4 linked regions of the Homo sapiens genome follow. The protein of the gene in region 4 purifies or fractionates together with the protein of the main gene of each other region. This does not show direct contact. Each region holds a gene or a part of one and is shown on either strand. Other genes may lie near its edges.

The links. The genes of interacting proteins can lie anywhere in the genome.
Region 1: the proteins of CLCN3 (region 4) and NBEAL1 fractionate together in Homo sapiens (co-fractionation; one large-scale study listed by BioGRID). This does not show direct contact.
Region 2: the proteins of CLCN3 (region 4) and PRKAR2A fractionate together in Homo sapiens (co-fractionation; one large-scale study listed by BioGRID). This does not show direct contact.
Region 3: the proteins of CLCN3 (region 4) and MCOLN1 fractionate together in Homo sapiens (co-fractionation; one large-scale study listed by BioGRID). This does not show direct contact.

The regions. Positions count from the first base shown.
Region 1 is NC_000002.12:203,013,506-203,018,405, reverse strand, and holds the start of NBEAL1 (neurobeachin-like protein 1), read right to left. Parts: upstream 3,532-4,900; 5' UTR 3,424-3,531; intron 2,689-3,423; exon of another isoform or gene 2,542-2,688; intron 2,251-2,541; 5' UTR 2,022-2,250; coding exon 1,971-2,021; intron 1-1,970.
Region 2 is NC_000003.12:48,770,644-48,774,874, forward strand, and holds part of PRKAR2A (cAMP-dependent protein kinase type II-alpha regulatory subunit), read right to left. Parts: intron 2,466-4,231; coding exon 2,312-2,465; intron 1-2,311. UniProt on the Homo sapiens protein: Regulatory subunit of the cAMP-dependent protein kinases involved in cAMP signaling in cells. Type II regulatory chains mediate membrane association by binding to anchoring proteins, including the MAP2 kinase.
Region 3 is NC_000019.10:7,529,124-7,533,354, reverse strand, and holds part of MCOLN1 (mucolipin-1), read right to left. Parts: coding exon 4,153-4,231; intron 3,766-4,152; coding exon 3,643-3,765; intron 3,070-3,642; coding exon 2,854-3,069; intron 1-2,853. UniProt on the Homo sapiens protein: Nonselective cation channel probably playing a role in the regulation of membrane trafficking events and of metal homeostasis. Acts as a Ca(2+)-permeable cation channel with inwardly rectifying activity.
Region 4 is NC_000004.12:169,692,718-169,697,917, reverse strand, and holds part of CLCN3 (H(+)/Cl(-) exchange transporter 3), read right to left. Parts: intron 2,307-5,200; coding exon 2,226-2,306; intron 730-2,225; coding exon 184-729; intron 1-183.

The sequences.
Region 1 (4,900 bases), on a different chromosome or scaffold from region 4:
AAAACTAAACTACGATTTCAAGCTCACAAAGAGGTCTAAGAAGCTTTTGAAACTAAGTGGTAGAAAATATTTTCATAAGAAGATCTGAGTCCTCAAGTGGTCTGAAAGCTCATTAAAAGTGTGAAAAAAAAAAGCCTTAAAAGTTTGTCAGCTGGGAAAAAAAAAAAGTCAGCTGGTTTGAGAGGCTAAATGCTAGAGTGAGAATAATAAGGCAAAAAGTATAGAGAACAACTGGGTACAGTATTTGGTAGTCATCCTCATTAGAAAGAAGACTTAAATCTATGAGGTATATTTGGTAGCTACCTGATTCAAGGTGTCTGCAGAAGAGAATGTTGTCTACCTTACAAAAAGCTTATCCGTTAACTGGTAAAATATAAAATCACGGTTTTAAATAAATATTCTTTGAAAACAAGTGAAAAAATTTTAAATCGTATTAAGCACACAAATTATTTAAATATTAAACCTAAAAATGAGATTTATATTCCTGTCCAAGAAGAGATAGGCTTCAAAATCTGACAGTGAGGGGCCTTCATTATTGAGGATTAACATTTCAAAGGAGAAGGGATGCATGTTTATATTAAAAGCCATTAAGAATAAAATTCAGTGTATGCCAATGAACTATACTATCTGTTTAATAAGCTTTAATATTAAATTTAATAGTAAATATACCTAAAAAGAATGTAACTTATTAATGAGACACGTAACCCCATTCACCAATATCATTTTGAAAACAGTAAAACCTAGTAAGTTTGATGTATTTTTAAATAAATCATTTTCAAACTACTAGGTATTCATACTAAAAATTAATTTTAATTTTTGGTTAACGTGTTAGTGACTATTTTCAAAAGTGGTGAATTGGATTCCTTTTTTATTGGAAGCGTCTATTTTTAAAAAGACATTTCTGGTATTAAATTATGCAAGACTAAAAGCTATTTTAAAAATTCATATTAAGCATTTCAAAGTGTATGTCCTTTAGCAATTATAATATATATCAAACCAGGAAGTCAAAGAAAATTCCAGTGTAATCTCTAAATTTAATATGACAGATAAATGAGACCACTGTTAAATAATAATCTGCCTTTTAAGGAGCATGAAAGGATAATGCAGAAACAGAAGCTGTGACTTGAGAATTTCACCACACATACTTAAATTAACTCAAATAGTACATTAGGGGTGTTTCTCTGACCCTTGCCAGTATCTTCAAAGTAATAATGTACCTCCTCACTTGAAAAACATGTTTTTAAGGAGTACTCTTCTCAATAACCTAAAATCAAAGCTATCAAGTAAAAATTCACATAAAGACAAGGAGGGGAAAGAACATTATTTCTGAGTGACAAAAATATTAAGGAGTAAAAATGGATAAAAGTACGCACTTGAGTCAGGTAGTACTGTGTTTCTCGGCTACTCAGTACTCCTGTAACCCTTGCATCAGTTTTCCCATCAGTAAAAGGGGATGATCACAATATTCACCTCACAGTATTGTAGTGAGAAGGAAATGAGACAATGCTCAAAGAGTGCTAACTTAGTGGCAGTCACACAGCACGCAGTTCAATCAATAACCTTGTGATGCAATTTCAAAGGTTCATTCCAAGAAAAATGCTTAATGCCCTTCTCATAAAAATGTCTCTATCCTACACTCACTTGTGGGAGAAAATGAAAAGCACAAACAAAAATAAAAATATTTTATTTTTCTCTTAAGGGCATAATTTTACTTATATAATTTTAGGATCATTTGGGGATAAGTATCAAATAAAAGCCGCACCCTACAGTTTTTAACAGTATGCCAATATTGTATGTGTGTTCAAACCTGAAAAAGAGGAAAACAGAAAATCCTTTAAACGCTTTTAAGTTTGGGGTTATTCATTATGACTAAATACACTATTATCTATTAAATAAAGTGTTACTACTGCCAGTCACAAATTTTATAATAAAGTATTTTAAAACATAAAAATAAAAAGGAAAGCAATTACCTTTGTACAATAAAGCATCCAAAGTTCAAAGAGCCTCTCTCTGGATGCCATTCTGGCTTTCACTCTGGCACTTTAAGTTTTCCTTAAAAAAATTATGTTCAAGACTACAGCATGTCCATTTTATTTTCCAAGTTTTTCAGCCGTTCAGTAAAGCTCATAGCAGTAAAGAAAGCAAAAAGAAGTGAAACAAATGGACTGTCCTCTGGTTAAAAACAAAAAGGCAATTTCAGCAGTCACTCCAATATATCTTCATCAGTGGTAGTTGGGCAATTAAATAAATCTGTGAAAGAGAAAAACATCCACAGGTTAGAAAAAGAGGCCATACTAAAAAATCTAGACTTATCAAAAACTAAAGATGTATCTTCTTCACTTCCCACAAACAACCCGCTATACTTTCACATGGACTGATTAGATTTCATAGAAACTTGTGTTTCAGGAAAACATCACAGCTAACACAGTATGTCCACCATAGAATCCTCTAGGGCAGACAGACTCCTAGAGATGGGTACATGTTCATAACCAAGAATGCGTCCAGTGAGAATAAGGAGCAAGACTCCCTTCCCACTCATACCTTTTGTACAGATACAAGGAAAAGGCCCACATCTCAGACATTTCAAATACATCAAAGCTCTTAGAATGTTCTTGTTCTGGTCTCCTCTTCAAAGTTGTTGGGGCCAGGCGCGGTGGCTCACGCCTGTAATCCCAGCACTTTGGGAGGCCCAAGTGCGTGAATCACCTGAGGTCAGGAGTTCGAGACCAGCCTGGCCAACACAGTGAACCCCTGTCTCTACTAAAGAAATACAAAAAATTAGCCGGGCGTGGTGGCGGGCACCTGTAATCCCAGCTACTCAGGAGGCTGAGGCAGGAGAATTGCTTGAACCCGGGAGGCAGAGGCTGCAGTGAGCCCAGATCACGCCACTGCACTCCAGTCTGGGCGACAGAGCAAGACTCCGTCTGGGGTGGGGTGGGGGTGGAGTAGTTGGGACTGTTTGCTGTGTTGCAGGGCAGGGCGTGGGGGCGGGGGAGGAATTCCCAGTTCGTTTGTTCTAACAATCCTCGGAGAGTGGAAGTCCACCCGCCCACCTGGCCTCTCCACCTTTCCATCCAAGAGAAGTGGGCACGCACACACCGGCGAGGAACTTCCCAAAGAAGCATCCAAGTGTTTGGGGGAATCTTTTAATTTCCTCCTCACATCCCAAGACAACCCAAACAGAGGCAAACTTAAGGTGTGCCGAGCTGCCAAGAGAAGCTCTAGAACTGAGGAATGCGGACTCGGCGTCTCCCGACCGCGATCCCAGCCTGCACTACAGTATCGGAACACTCCCTGACAGCCTAGCCCACTCAAAGCCGCCCCTCACTCTGCAGCCCCTCCACCACCAAGCACCGGGGCCCTCCCATTTCTTGCCATGCCGCCCCCTCTTCCCAACGGCCCGCTCCCCATCACCGGGCTCACATTGTGTGCCGCGCGGCAGCCGCCGCCCGGCAGCCGTCTAACTGCTTCCCTCGACCCCTTCCCAAGGCGAAGCCCCGTGTCACCCCGCAGCCAGGCAGACGAGCGGGCGGGACATGGGGGCGGGGCGAGAGGCCGGGAGGAGCAGGGGGCGGGGCTGCCCCCTGGGCTAATCATTTCGGCCGCTGAGGATTTACCCAGCCGTTGGGCGGCAGCTGTTCAATGGTCGCGTAGGCTGGGGATGGGCGGGGTGACCTGAAGCCCCGCCCCAGCATACCTGCGCAGCCGCAGTCGACAGGCTCTGGCTGCCCATCCCTTGGCGGGCGCCGGCCGCGGCACTGAAACGAGCCTTCCCTCAGCTGGACATGGAGGAGGGCTGACGTGCTGACGTCTACGCCCGCCCCGCTTTTCGCTGATGGCGTCATTTCCGTGAGTCATCTGAGGGCGTGAGACCCTACGGTGTTAAAGGGGATTTTGTTTCACTTATTTGTAGAACCGGGATTGGTTCTGGGAATTTAGAGTAATGTAAAAAGACAAAACACACACAGACACCCCCCAAAAACTCCTCTTTTCCTTTTGTGCCTGCTTTCGTCGTCACCGAGTGTCATATCCAAAGGGCTTATTTTACCACCACTAAAGACTTCGAAAGGGTTTTTCTTTTTCAGAAAAGAAGCAAAAGGCTTTACTAACTATAGACAACTTTCAGAGAGATTTGGTTTTTGTATAAGGAAAGAAAAACGCGTAAGATAACTCACCTTTGTTAAACATTTCCACAACTTTTTATTGTGAAAGATTTCAAGTATATTCTAAAGTAAACTAGTATAACGAAACCCTGTATACCGTCACCCAACTTCAAAAATGATCAACTAATGTCCCATCTTGTTTCATTTGTAACAAGGATCCACAAATTGCCTGTGAAGAGCCAGAGACGAGGCGCAGTGGCTATCGCCTGTAATTCCAGAATTTTGGGAGGTCTAGGCGGGCGAATCCCTTGAACCCAGGAGATCAGCCTGGGCAACAGAATGAGACCCTGTCTCTGCAAAAGAAATTTTAATTAGCTTGGCGTGGTGGTGCACGCCTGTAGTTCCAGCTACTTAGAAGCTAAGGTGGGAGAATCGCTTGAACCTGGGAGTGAAGGTTGCAGTGAGCTCCGATGGCGCCACTGTACTCCAGCCTGGGCGACAGAGCGAGACACTGTCTCAAAAAATAAAAATAAAATAAAAAGAGCCAGACAATAAATGTTATAGGCTTTGCAGTCCATTCTGGTTGCAACTTGCTTAACGAAAATCAAAAGAACAATATTTTGAGATGTGAAAATTAGACGAAATTCAAATTCAAGTTTCAGTGTCCTAAAATTTTAGTGGAACACAACCATGCCCATTCCTTTAGTATTGCCTATAGCTGCTTTCACTCTACCATGGCAGAATTGAGAGTAGTTGCTTGCAAATTACACCTTCAATTTTTTATCCTGAAATTACAT
Region 2 (4,231 bases), on a different chromosome or scaffold from region 4:
TAAGAAAGCAAGGAGAAGAGGAAATGACTGCCAAAGGCAAGGAAATAGAAAGAATAGGAGTCTTAGGAAAGGAAGTCTCAGGAAAAGAAGGGTGGTGAGTAGCACCATGGCCATGGGGAGCTTGTGCCATCATTCTGTGAACACCCACCTTGTACCAGGCACTAAGGGAGTCACTTCTCTTATGCCCATGTATTTAATCCTCATACCCCAGCCACAAAGCAGGTGGTTTTACAGCTCAATATACAGTTTTCAATTTTCATTGAGACTTGGTCTTAGAGATTATCCAAGAATGGGTTATTTGGCCGGGTGCGGTGGCTCTTGCCTGTAATCCCAGCACTTTGGGAGGCCGAGGTGGGCAGATCACCTGAGGTCAGGAGTTCGAGACCAGCCTGGCCAACATGGTGAAACTCCATTTCTACTAAAAATACAAAAATTGGCTGGGCGTGGTGGCACATGTGCACACGTCTGTAATCCCAGCTACTCAGGAGGCCGAGGTAGGAGAATCGCTTGAACCCAGGAGGCAGAGGTTGCAGTGAGCCAAGATCATCTCAAAAAAGAAAAAAAAGAAAGAATGTGTTATTTGGCTGGGCACAGTGGCTCATGCCTGTAATTCCAGCACTTTGGGAGGCCAAGGCAGGAGGACTGCTTGAGCCCAGAAGTTCAAGACCAGCCTGAGCAACATAGTGAGACTCTGTCTCAACAACAACAACAACAAAAAGACAGGTGTGGTGGTGCACACCTGTAGTCCCAGCTACTTGGGAGGCTGAGGTGGGAGGATTGCTTGAGCTCAGGAGGTCAAGGCTGCAGTTAGCCCCTGCTCACACCAAAAACAATGTTATTTAATTTCTAAGTGTCTGGAGATCTGTTATTGATTTTTAGTTTCTTTCTTTCAATTGTAGTTAGAGAACACATTCTGATTTCATTTTTTCTTTAAATTTTCATTATTTCTTAAAATTTTAAATAGAGATGTGGTCTCACTATGCTGCCCAGGTAGGTCTCAAATTCCTGGACTCAATCCTCCCACCTCAACCTCCCAAAGTGCTGGGATAACAGGCTTGAGCCACTGTGGTTGGCCTGATTTCAAATCTTTTACATTTTTTAAGTTTTATTTTATATTCCAGGATATGGCCTATTTGGGTGAATGTTCCATGGGCTTGAAAAAAATGTTCATTCTGTTGTTGCTGTGTGCAGTGTTCTATAAATTTCAGATAGCTTTTGTTAATTAATGGTGTTAAGTTCTTCTATATCCTAGCTGACACTAGCTGATTTTCTGTTTAGCTGTTCGTTCTTTTGTTTTGTTTTGTTTTTGAGATGGAGTTTTGCTTTTGTTGAATATACCTGTTAGAAGATCTGGATTTCAGGCTTTCCAGCACCCCATCTGGGATATATGGGAACCTGGGAACTCACTGTCATGTCTTTCCTCAAGCCCCAATATCCCTAGATAGTCTGCCTTCTTCTTTCCACCTTTCAGAGTCTTCCTATGTTTGCTCTATTATGTCCATAGTTGTTTGTGTGTGTGTTTAAGTTTTTAAGTGAGAACACTAGCATGGAATAGGGCTATTCCATCTTGGTCTGAACCAGTAGTTAGCACCAAGGCTTATTATTTGATTTTGTATTTTTTGAGATGGAGTCTTGCTCAGTCGCCCAGGCTAGAGTGCAGTGGCGTGATCTTGGCTCACTGCAACCTCCGCCTCCTGGGACTACAGGCGCCCATCACCATGACTGGCCAATTTTCATATTTTTAGTAGAGACACGGTTTTACCATGTTGCTCAGGCTGGTCTCGAACTCCTGACCTCAAGTGATCTTCCCGCCTTGGCCTCCCCAAGTGCTGGGATTACAGGTGTGAGTCACCGTGCCTGGCCCCCATTATTTATTATTCCCCTATACAAATCTATTCTTGAGTTTTTCAATCATTGAGTCCCCAAGTGTGTGACCTATCCTTAAGTCACTGTATCTCTTTCAGGAGCACTCTTAATTTAACATCAGGATGTCACAATAAAGTGCTTTTTTTTTTGAGACGGAGTCTCGCTGTGTCGCCCAGGCTGGAGTACAGTGGCGCGATCTCGGCTCACTGCAAGCTCCACCTCCCGAGTTCACGCCATTCTCCTGTCTCAGCCTCCCAACTAGCTGGGACTACACATGCCCACCACCACACCTGGCTATTTTTTTTGTATTTTTTAGTAGAGATGGGGTTTCACCGTGTTAGCCAGGATGGCTGTAAGATATAGTGTAAATCAACAGCCCAAGGACAGAGACACAGAAAGGGAATTAATACTGTGCCTTGCAAGGGGAACGATTTCTCTCACTCACCAGTCCCCAAAGGGAGCCTTCTGAGGTAGCAACAATGGTAGCAGCTCTCGGGGTGTTGTACATCAGAGCTAGTTCTCCAAAACTGCCACGGTTGTCATATTGACCAACAGAGCGGGTTTGATTATCTTTTGTTACTAAAATGTCATAAGTTCCCCTAGAAGAATGACAAAGAATAATTTAATTAGTTACTTCTGATAATAAATGTTAAGAACTGGCAGGTACATATAATAGAAAATGTTGTTTTAAGAGATTTCCAATGGAACTTTGCTAGTATATAAAAAAAACATATTTTTGTATTTTGACTTTGTACTGTGTCCTATAACCTTGCTAAACTCACTTATTAATTCTAGTAGCCTTTTTGTGGCATTCTTGGAATTTTCTTTTCTTTTTTTTTTTTTTTTTTTTTTGAGACGGAGTCTCGCTCTGTCACCCAGGCTGGAGTGCAGGGGCGGTATCTCAGCTCACTGCAAGCTCCACCTCCTGGGCTCACGCCATTCTCCTGCCTCAGCCTCCCGAGTAGCTGGGACTACAGGCACGCGCCACCAGGCCCAGATAATTTTTTTGTATTTTTAGACAGGGTTTCACCATGTTAGCAGGATGGTCTCGATCTCCTGGCTTCGTGATCCGCCCGCCTCAGCCTCCTAAAGTGCTGGGATTACAGGTGTGAGCCACCACACCCGGCTAGAATTTTCTACATAGAGGATCATGTCACCTGAAACAAAGTTTTAATACTTCCTTTCCAATCTATATGCCCCTTCCTTTTTTTCCCCCCATCTTTAACTTAAACATATATATATATACACACACACACATATATACATACACATAAATATATATATACACATATATACATTTTTTGACATATATATTTTTTTGAGACAGGGTCTTGCTCTGTCACCCAGGCTGGAGTGCAGAGGCACAATCATGGCTCATTGCAGCCTCCACCTCCTGGCCCCAAGCAATCCTCTCACCTCAGCCCCCTAGCAATCCTCTCACCTCAGCCCCGAGTAGCTGTGACCACAGACGTGTGCCACCACACCTGGCTAATATTTTATTTTTGTAGAGATGGGGTCTCACTATGTTGCCCAAGCTGGTCTGGAACTCCTGGGCTCAAGCAATCCTCCTGTCTCAGCCTCCCAAAGTACTGGGATTAAAGGCATGAGCCACCATGCCCGGCCTAATTTTTTTTCTTTTATTAATATATAATATTTTACATAATTTATGGCGTACATGTGAGTGTTTGTTGCATGCATAGAATGGGTAATGATTAAGTCAGGGTAACTGGGGTATCCATCACCTTGGATATATGTCCTTTCTATGTGTCAGTATCATTTCATGTCCTCTCTTCTATTAATAGTTACTTTGAAATATGCTAAATATTGTCACCCAAGTATAGTCACCTTATCATGCTATAAAACATTAGAACTTGCCAGGTGCAGTGGCTCACACCTGTAATCTCAGCACTTTAGGAAGCTAAACTGGGAGGGTTGCTTGAGCCCAGGAGTTTGAGACAATCCTGGGCAACGTATGGAGACTTCTCTCCACAAAAAGGAAAAAAAAAAGACATTAAAATTTATTTCTTCTATCTAACTGTGTGTTTGTACCCATTAGCCAACTTTTCTTCATCCACCCACCACCCTTCTCAGTTTCTGGTATATATCATTCTATTCTCTATGTCTACGATATCAATGTTCTTTAGCATTCACATGTGAGCAAGAACATGTGGTATTTGTCTTCCTGTGCCTATCTTATTTACCTTAATATAGCAACCTCCATGTGGCTACAAATGACATGACTTCTTTCTTTTTTATGGTCAAATGGTATTTCATTGTGTACTATGCCACACTTTCTTTCTTTCTTCCTTTTTTCCTTGCCTCCCTCCCTCCCTCTCTTCCTTTCTTTGCCTTATTGCATTGACTA
Region 3 (4,231 bases), on a different chromosome or scaffold from region 4:
CTTCCCTGACCCCTGAACCTGGATACAAGCTGTGTCTTTGCCAGTCTGTGTCTTTGCCTTCTGCTGTAGGTCCAGCACCTACAGACCTAGAGCCAGGGCTGACATGACCTCGATGCTCAGAAACCATCTATTGAGTGAGCTGGATGCACGCTGAGCACAGCAGTGGGAGCAGGGCCTGAGACTGCCCACCTGAGTGGATGCATGTGTGTGATGTCTACGTGCTAAGGCAAGACAGGAAGTAGTTCCAAGGGCCTGAGTCAATGTGTCTGTGGGACAGCTGAATCCATGCATGGGGAAAAGGGGGTGTACCCATCTGCCGGTGACATTGGATGTGGCAGGGTCCCAGCCAAGGCTTCCTTCCTCTCACTCGGCCTCATGGAGGGGCCATCTTTTCTCCAAGTTTTTTCAGGCTACTAGACCTTTGCTTTAGCTATTCCTTCCCCTCGGTGCACTGCCCCTGGGCTCCCATCTCTTCAGTCTAGAGGCGATGGAAGTATTCAATATCTATGCTGTCCAATATGGCAGCCACCAGCCACACTGGCTTTTGAGCACTGGATACAGGATGGTGCAAGTCAGAGGCTAAATTTGCAATTGTACTTCATTTGAATTAAAATTTTTAAAAAATTGTTGTTTTGTCTTTGAAGCAGAGTCTCGGTCTCTCGCCCACGTTGGAGTGCAGTGGCTTGATCTCGGCTCACTGCAACCTCTACGTCCCAGGTTCAAGCAATTCTACTGCCTCAGCCTCCGGAGTAGCTGGGATTACAGGTGCCTGCCACCACGTCCGCTAATTTTTTGTATTTTTAGTAGAGATGGGGTTTTGCCATGTTGGCCAGGCTGGTCTCGAACTCCTAACCTCAGGTGATCCACCCCCACCCCCCCTCGGCCTCCCAAAGGGCTGGGATTACAGGCGTGAGTCACCGTGCCCAGCCGGAATTAAAATCAAAATTTAAATAGCTGCATAGGGCTAGAGACTAGTGATGGATAGAACATTCTAGAAGCTCTCCTGGATCTCCTGTCATACCAATCTAAAGCAGGGGTCCCTCTGCAACCTTCCACTCTTCCTTCATACCTGTTACAAGTAGGTCATTGGTCATGGGATGTCTGTTCCTGTGCCATCCTTGCCCACAGGCCTTGGACGGATCATGCACACCTGATTTTCCTCCATGCCCAGAACCCAGCACAGATCTTGGCCCTTAGATATATCTGCTGAAAGAATCCTATCTACCTGCCACTTCCGCATCCTGCTCTGTCCCCTGACCCTTGCAGCTTGCAGGGAAACCACTGTTCCCAGCCACCCTACTAAACTGAGGACAGAGGGGTTAGGAGCACGGCTTCTGGAATCAGACAGCCCTGGGTTGAGCCCAGTTTTACTGCTCAGAAGCTAACCTGGGCCGGGCACAGTGGCTCACGCCCGTAATCCCAGCACTTTGGGAGCCTGAGGTGGGCGGATCACAAGGTCAGGAGTTTGAGACCAGCCTGGTCAACATGGTGAAACCCCATCTCTACTAAAAATACAAAAATTAGCCAGGCATGGTGGCGTGTGCCTATAATCCCAGCTACTCAGTAGGCTGAGGCAGGAGAATCGCTTGAACCCGGGAGGCAGAGGTTGCAGTGAGCCGAGATTGCACCACTGCACTCCAGCCTGGGTGACACAGCGAGACTCCGTCTCAAAAAAAATAAATAAATAAAGAAGCTAACCTTGGGCAGGGTCAGAGGGAGTCGGGGGCATGGCTGGGGGCTGGGGTCAGGGTTGGGTTTTTAGAGGTCCGCCATAGGAATGGGGCCAGCTGAGGATCACCATGTTAATGGCAACGTCCCAGGGTCAATGACAAGGTCATTGAAACTGTATGACTTAGCTGGGTTCAGTGGCTCATGCCTGAAATCCCAGCACCTTGGGAGGCCAAGGCAGGTGGATCACCTGAGGTCAGGAGTTCGAGACCAGCCTGGCCAACGTGGTGAAACCCCATCTCTAGTAAAAATACAAAAATTAGCCAGGTGTGGTGGCACGTGCAAGTAATCCCAGCTACTCAGGAGGCTGAGGCACAAGGATCGCTTCAACTCAGAAGGTGGAGGTTGCAGTGAGCCGAGATCATGCCATTGCACTCCAGCCTGGGCCACAGGGTAAGATTCCATTTCAAAAAAAAAATAATAATAATAGGCTGGGTGTGGTGGCTTACGCCTGTAATCCCAGCACTTTGGGAGGCCAAAGTGGGAGGATCACTTGACCTCAGGAGTTTGAAACCAGCCTGGGTAACACAGTGAGACCCTTGTCTCTAATAAAATAAAGAACAATACTTTAATAATAAAATAAAATAGGCCGGGCGTGGTGGCTCACGCCTGTAATCCCAACACTTTGGGAGGCCAAGGCAGTAGATCTCCTGAGGCCAGGAGTTTGAGACCAGCCTGACCAATGCGGTGAAATGCCATCTCTACTAAAAATACAAAAATTAGCTGGACGTGGTGGCGTGTGCCTGTAGTCCCAGCTACTCAGGAGGCTGAGACAGAATTGCTTGAACCCGGGAGGTGGAGGTTGCAGTGAGTCAAGATCGCACCACTGCACTCCACCCTGGGTGACAGAGCAAGACTCCGTCTCAAATAAACAAATAAATAAATAAACTCTATGACTCGGTTGCCCTGTTGGCAAAGACTGACTCAGGCCCCCTCCTGGCCCAAGCCCACCTTGACATCCCCCTGCGCCCCCCAGTTCTGAACCACCCTCTTTTTGGTTTCATAGAGTCTCCCATATTCTCTCCTGGGTCTTCTCTGTTCACCCTGCGGTGTCCCCAAGACCCCCTCATGGCAGACTCCAGGGCACCCAGAGCCCGAGCTCAGGGCTGGGTGCATGCGGCTGACCTTGATGGTGTCGTAGGCGCCGGTGATGAGCGCGATGAAGAGGCTGAGCACCATGTAGATGAAGAGGCTGATGAAGGAGTAAAGGTAGAGCTGGGAGAAGAGCCACACCAGGCTGCTGCGGCCCTGCTGCGCCTGCATGGCGGCGAACGTCACAAACATGTCGTCCCCATTGATGAGCGAGAACAGGCACTCAGACACCATGGAGAGTGAGCGGAACTGCCAGAGGGGCGGCGGGGTCAGAGGGAGCCAAGGCATGGCCAGGAACCGGGGGCTGGGGTCAGGCTGGGGTCCCATGCAAATGGCTAGGAGCTGGTGGCTGGGGCCCCACATGAATGGCCGGGTCCCGGGCTGCGGTCACCATGTGAATGGTCGGGTTCCAGGCTAGGGCCCCTGTGAATGGCCGGGTCCCAGGCTGGGGTCCCACGTGAATGGCCGGGACCCAGGCTGGGGTCCCACGTGAATGGCCGGGTCCCAGGCTGGGGTCACTATGTGAATGGCCAGGTCCCAGGCTGGGGTCCCATGTGAATGGCCGGGACCACGGGTCAATGACAGGGCCACAGGGCCGACCTAGGGTCTGGGTAGATAGAGCAGGAGGGGAGTAATTCAGGTCGAAATAGGGTCATCAACAACTGTGACAACAATAATGGCACAGGGTCAGTGTCAGGGTCACCAAGGACCACAGGGGACAGTGGACAGACTCCCAGCAGTCACCAAGGGGTCATCTGGGGGTCACAGTGTCAATGACAAGGTCACAGGGTCAATGTCAGGGACATCAGGGGTTAGATGTACCTTCACATGATAGGGCCCCAGCACGATCCAGCCACAGAAGCAGTAGCCCAGGTAGATGACAGCCACGCAGCAGCAGAAGCGCATGACGCTGGGCAGGGCCACCCGCAGTGTGGCGATGAGGATCTGGGTTGGGGCAGAGGGAGCCTCGTTGAGGGTGTGGCCACAACTCAGGTCAGCTGTGGGCACCCAGATGGGGGTGGGAGGGGCGGGGCCTTGCCGAGGGCACAGCCGGTGTGGTCATGGGAGCCAGTGGGTGCCTAGAGGGGGCGTGGCCACGTCTGAGGGGGTCCGAGGGCAACGCACGGCTAGACTCAGCTGGGTGGGCACAAAGGAGCAGGCTCCCGGGGCCCCGCGCAGGTGCAGTGACAGATATATCTGGTGTGGGCAGGTAGGAGGAGGAGGCTTGCAAGGGGCCATTGGCCGGGGCTGGTGAGGGCTGCGTGTGTAGGGATTTATTTGGAGGGTGTGGAGTAACCATGTGGAAGGCCCAGCTGCATGTGCAAAACTCACATTGTAGTTGTGGAAGAAGGTCAGGTAGCGGATCACGCCCACCCACACCAGCAGCGTCGAGGTGCCCAGGAGGATGCTG
Region 4 (5,200 bases):
AAATAGCAACAGATAACATGGTCAACAATATATGCTAAGGAATTATCTTTTTCATTACTTAAAATTAAACTCAAAAGATAAGTACTTTTTTCAGTCATTTATGAAACAACAACCTCTCTCATTCCACATATAAGTTTTGAACATGCCAAAATTACCCAAATATCACCTCACATTAGCACTTACCTTGATGCCAAAAGTGAATACTGTCATTATGATTTTAAATATGAGTGCCAGGCATAACTGCCATATAGCTGAATATACTCCAATGCCTGCTGGACGATCAGGAATGTCATCGACAATTTTACTGGCATTCATGTCATTTCTGTAGTCACAAAGAGAAGAGGATTCCAGGGGACCACAGTCTGTAAAAAGCTCTTTGATCAGTTCACTGGTGTTTAGCCTAGTGTATGGATTAGGGAAGGCTATCACAGCAGTAATGGCTGCAACAATAATGACTTCCAGAACGGGATACTTTCCAAATTTCGTGGACTTGCGTCGACGACACCAGGCAATATTTGCCCTAATGAAAAAGGCTCCCCAAAGCCCTCCAAATACCCCTAGAAGAATAAAAGGAAACAGTTCAAAAAGGTACCATGGTGTATGATACTCCACATAAAAAAGGACCAGACGGCTGTTACCAAATGGATTGATGGACCTCAAAACAAATGCAGCCACTAAAGCAGCAAAAAATGATCTCCATAAAGTTTTGAGAGGAAAATAATAGCTAACCTAAAAAAAAGAAAAGGAAAAGAAAAATTAATGCTATAATTTTATAAGATGTTTCTGATATATTATAACTTGAATGGTAAATATCCTAGCTCTAAATTTTGCTGTAGTTAGAATTTACATGTAATGGATTTTACTGTAATAAGAAAAATTGATGTTATTATTATTTTTGGAGATGGTGATCATCATTACAAATTGACAGTATCAATTGATCATAAATGTCTAATAAATACTAATAGAATACCTAGTGCTGTTTTATATTCAAAATGAGTTTCACATTCAATTCAATCATGGTAGTTAAAAATAAATGTACCATCACCAACTCCTGTTAACTTATAATGCATTTAATTTGCCTCTTCTACATTAAAAAAAAAAAAAGAATACAAACAACTAAAAGAAAAAAGTACATTTAAAAACATCTTGAACTAAAAGAGTTAAATTCATAGAAGTAGAGAGTAGAATAGGGGTTACCAGAGGCTAGGGGTTGGGGAGGTGAACAGGGAAAGGGGAGACATTAGTCAACGGGTATGAACTTACAGAGGAGGAATAAGTTCTGGTGTTCTATTGCACAGTAAGATGACCACAGTTAATAATATGTATTATATATTTCAAAATAGCTAAAAGAGGATTTTAAATGTTCTCACCACCACAAGGACATAATAAATATTTGAGGGATTTGCTAATCACTCTGATTTGATTATTCCGCAATGTATACATGTATAGACACATCACATTATACCCCATAAACAAAAACAATTATTATTTGTCAAAAAAAATTAAAAAAAAATTCCTGGTTACATTTTTATGTAAAAAGAAAAGTCTTAAACACCTATTAAGAAAACAAAAACAAAATAATCCACTGAAGTCACTAAAATTATTTTCTTTAACATCACTAACTGTATCAGAAATAATCACATGGGAAAAACTTTAAAACACAACATAGGAATTGATTAAAATTTTTTAAACAAAAACTACTTGGGAGGCTGAGGCAGGAGAATCACTTGAACCCTGGAGGCGGAGGTTGCAGTGAGCCAAGATCGCGCCATTGCACTCCAGCCTGGGCAACAAGAGTGAAACTCCGTCTCAAAAACAAAAACAAAACAAAACAAAACAAAAAAACCCCACAAAAAAACAGCCTGGCCAACATGGTGAAATTCCATCTCTACTAAAAATACAGAATTTAGCCAATGGAAATAGATTGTTTCACATGTCCTCTATTAAGTCAAATTCACATCTTCTTACTTTTAAATATGTCAACAAAGTTAGATTTTAAATAATTACTAACATTCATACATTAATAAATTTTTAAAAAGTTTCCTCCAGGTATGGAGCATGAATAACATTTACTTTTTATTAAGAATGAGTGGAAAACAACTTTAGAAAAATAAATTTGAAAACAAAGTCTCTACCTATTACATCACCTACAAAACTGAAATGTGTGAAATATATTTGTAATGGTAATTATATATAATTTTAATTGTTGTATTCTTTTCACCTACCTCTTCCAGGCTAAAAAGAACTCCTCCAATTGGTGCACCAAAAGCTACAGAAACCCCTGCAGCTGAGGCAGCTGATAGCACCTAGAAAGAGGATATGGCTTATTTCATAATTTCATAGAAATTCAAACATACCAAATAAAAATTCTTCATGTTACTTGAATTTTCCAAATGGATTTTCTGAATTTAACTTGCATGTTTCCTTGCTCCCTAAGCAAAGGGTAACTATTCATTTCTTCTATTAAGATTTGTTTCTTTCTCCTGGCTTTAATTGAAAGGTCAGTCATGCATTTACCATTCAGTTAAAAAAAATTTTTGCCAGATATACTAATGTGAATAGGGTGTAAAGAGGAGGAGGCAATGAATATAGACAATTTTCAAGACGTATGTTTGTGTAGGTAAGAGGGGAGGGCAGTAACTGGGATGGGGAGCTATTTTTAAATAGGATATCATTTCTTCAAATTTTAGAGCTAACTGCTCCACCATAAATACTCTATTCCAAATCGTAGCAAGATATGCAGGGAACCGAAGACCTTGTAAGATTCCCTATATTTTCACTACCCTATGCATTCTGAAATACTGCTAAAATACTATCAATCTAGAGAGCCTCATTCTGAAAGCACACACAACAGCTCCTCAAGTTACAGTCTCACCAACCAACACCTCTACAAAAAAATTAAAGGAAAAGAAAAATCCAAGGACACTCTTCCGTGTCCTCTCTCCAGCTCCCCAGTCTATCAGTTGGTAATGGTCTACTTCCCACCTGTAAGCCAACTATACCTAACTATACCTATAATTTCACTAGGGTTTTATTTGTAATTATTTTTCTAAGAGTCTGTATTCCTTTATTTTTTTTGAGACAGAGTTTCTCTCTTGTTTCTCAGGCTGGAGTGCAATGGCGTCGTCTCAGCTCACTGCAACCTCCACCTCCTGGGTTCAAGTGATTCTCCTGCCTCAGCCTCCCGAGTAGCTGGGATTACAGGCGCCTGCCACCACGCCCGGCTAATTTTTGTATTTTTAGTAGAGACGGGGTTTCACCATGTTGGCAACACTGGTCTCGAATTCCTGACCTTAGGTGATCTGCCTGCCTCAACCTACCAAAATGCTGGGATTATAGGCGTGAGCCACCGCGCCCAGCCAAGTGTCTGTATTACTTTCACTACTTTAATACAGCAAATATCCAAAGCTACCTAAAGTATTTCTTCAAATGGTCAATTGTTACATTTCCAGAAGAGAAATTATAAATAATAAAAATTAAGCTGTAAATGGTTAAGATCATGAACTCCATAGTCAGGCTGCTGTGTTGAAATCATGGCTCTGCTACTTACTAGCTGTATGGCTATGGGTAGATAACCTAACCTATATGTGCCTCAGTTTTCTCTAAAATGGAAACGTGATAATATTACTTAGCTCTTAAGGACTGAGTAAATATATACAGAGTGCTTTAGAACAGTGCCTGGCACCAGTAAATACTTTATAAAAGTTTGGTGAATTAAAAGTAAATAAATATTTGTTTTAATCAAATTGTTGGCATTAAAATGTAGACTCTGCTTATTTGGGGAGGAAAGGGAGCAAATTTAGCTTCTTTTTTTTTTCCTCCACTAAGAGGAAAGCAAACATATTTATTTGAATGTCCTGATCCTGAATTTACAACCAAACTAACACCTAGGTATCTATAACTCATATACATGTTTTAATCCATTTCATACGTATCTAAGAAGCATTTAATTTAAAAATATCAACGCTCTCCCCTCTTGTCTACACAAAACTATGGGACCTTAATGCTTTCAACTAACCGTGAATTCTTGCCATTTATATATACACTAAGGTGACAGAATAACAACGTATTAAACATTAACTAATCACTACAGTATGAACATTAAAATTTAGGTAAACTTAATTTCTCAAACATCTAATAAATTACATTTTTTGAACTTAGAATAAGTAAAAGTCTTACCAAAAAATATAAAGGTACAACAGAAAGTAATGGAATTGAATTGAGGAGGCAAATGCTCTAGCTTCATCTTAGCCACTAACTTGCTACGCTACAGGATGGTTTTGAGTTTGTTTTGAACACACACAAATATATACCCACATAGTCGTAAGGGCAGTAATGTAAGTAGGTAAGACCACAGACTTTGAAGTCAAAGAAAAATGAATTTTAACCTACGTTCCACCACTTACTAGGTATGTAGTCTCGGGCAAGTTAGTTAGCTGTTTTCAGCCCTAGTTTACTAATCACTAAATGAGGATAACAGGGCCATATTACTAAATTACTGTGAAATTAAGTATTAAAATCCAAGTAAAGTATCTGCCACAGTACCAGATACACAGAAAGTAATCAATAATGCTAGCTATTTTTGTTATAAAGTACTGGAATCACAATTATTCAGAGATGAAACTACGACAATCTGAAGTATTCCACTTTTGGGATATCTACGTCCAATGCAAGGACAATATTTTAATGCGAACATTAAAATGTACTAGAATTATTTCAATTGAAGATTAAACAGTTTGATAAAATATTCTACTTTTTTGGTTACAGTACATTAAAAAACTCAACAAGATGAAAAGGTTCTGCCAGTATTTAATGAGATGTTTTTCAAAAAATCATATCTTAAAAACTCAAAGATCTCTGTACCATCTAGGGCTGTAGATTTAGATTTGGAAAATAGGAAGGGACTGGGCTCCCAAAGTCTAGAGCTAATATAAAGGATTCAGGAAAATGCCCAGAGCAATATGGAAACATCAGAGGAAATCCATAATATATATAAGGTTTCAAGGTCTTGTAGAAGATCTCAGGCTGGCCTAAAGAAATGGTAAAGGAAATTGCCTTAAACAATCAAATGAAAAGGATTTCCTGTAATCTCTTTAATGTGAATTTCTGATTTAAACTTCAAGAGCTTCTAAAGGCCCTCAGAACTTCCCCATAGCACTGGATAGCATTTTTCATATCACACACCACTTACACTGGCACC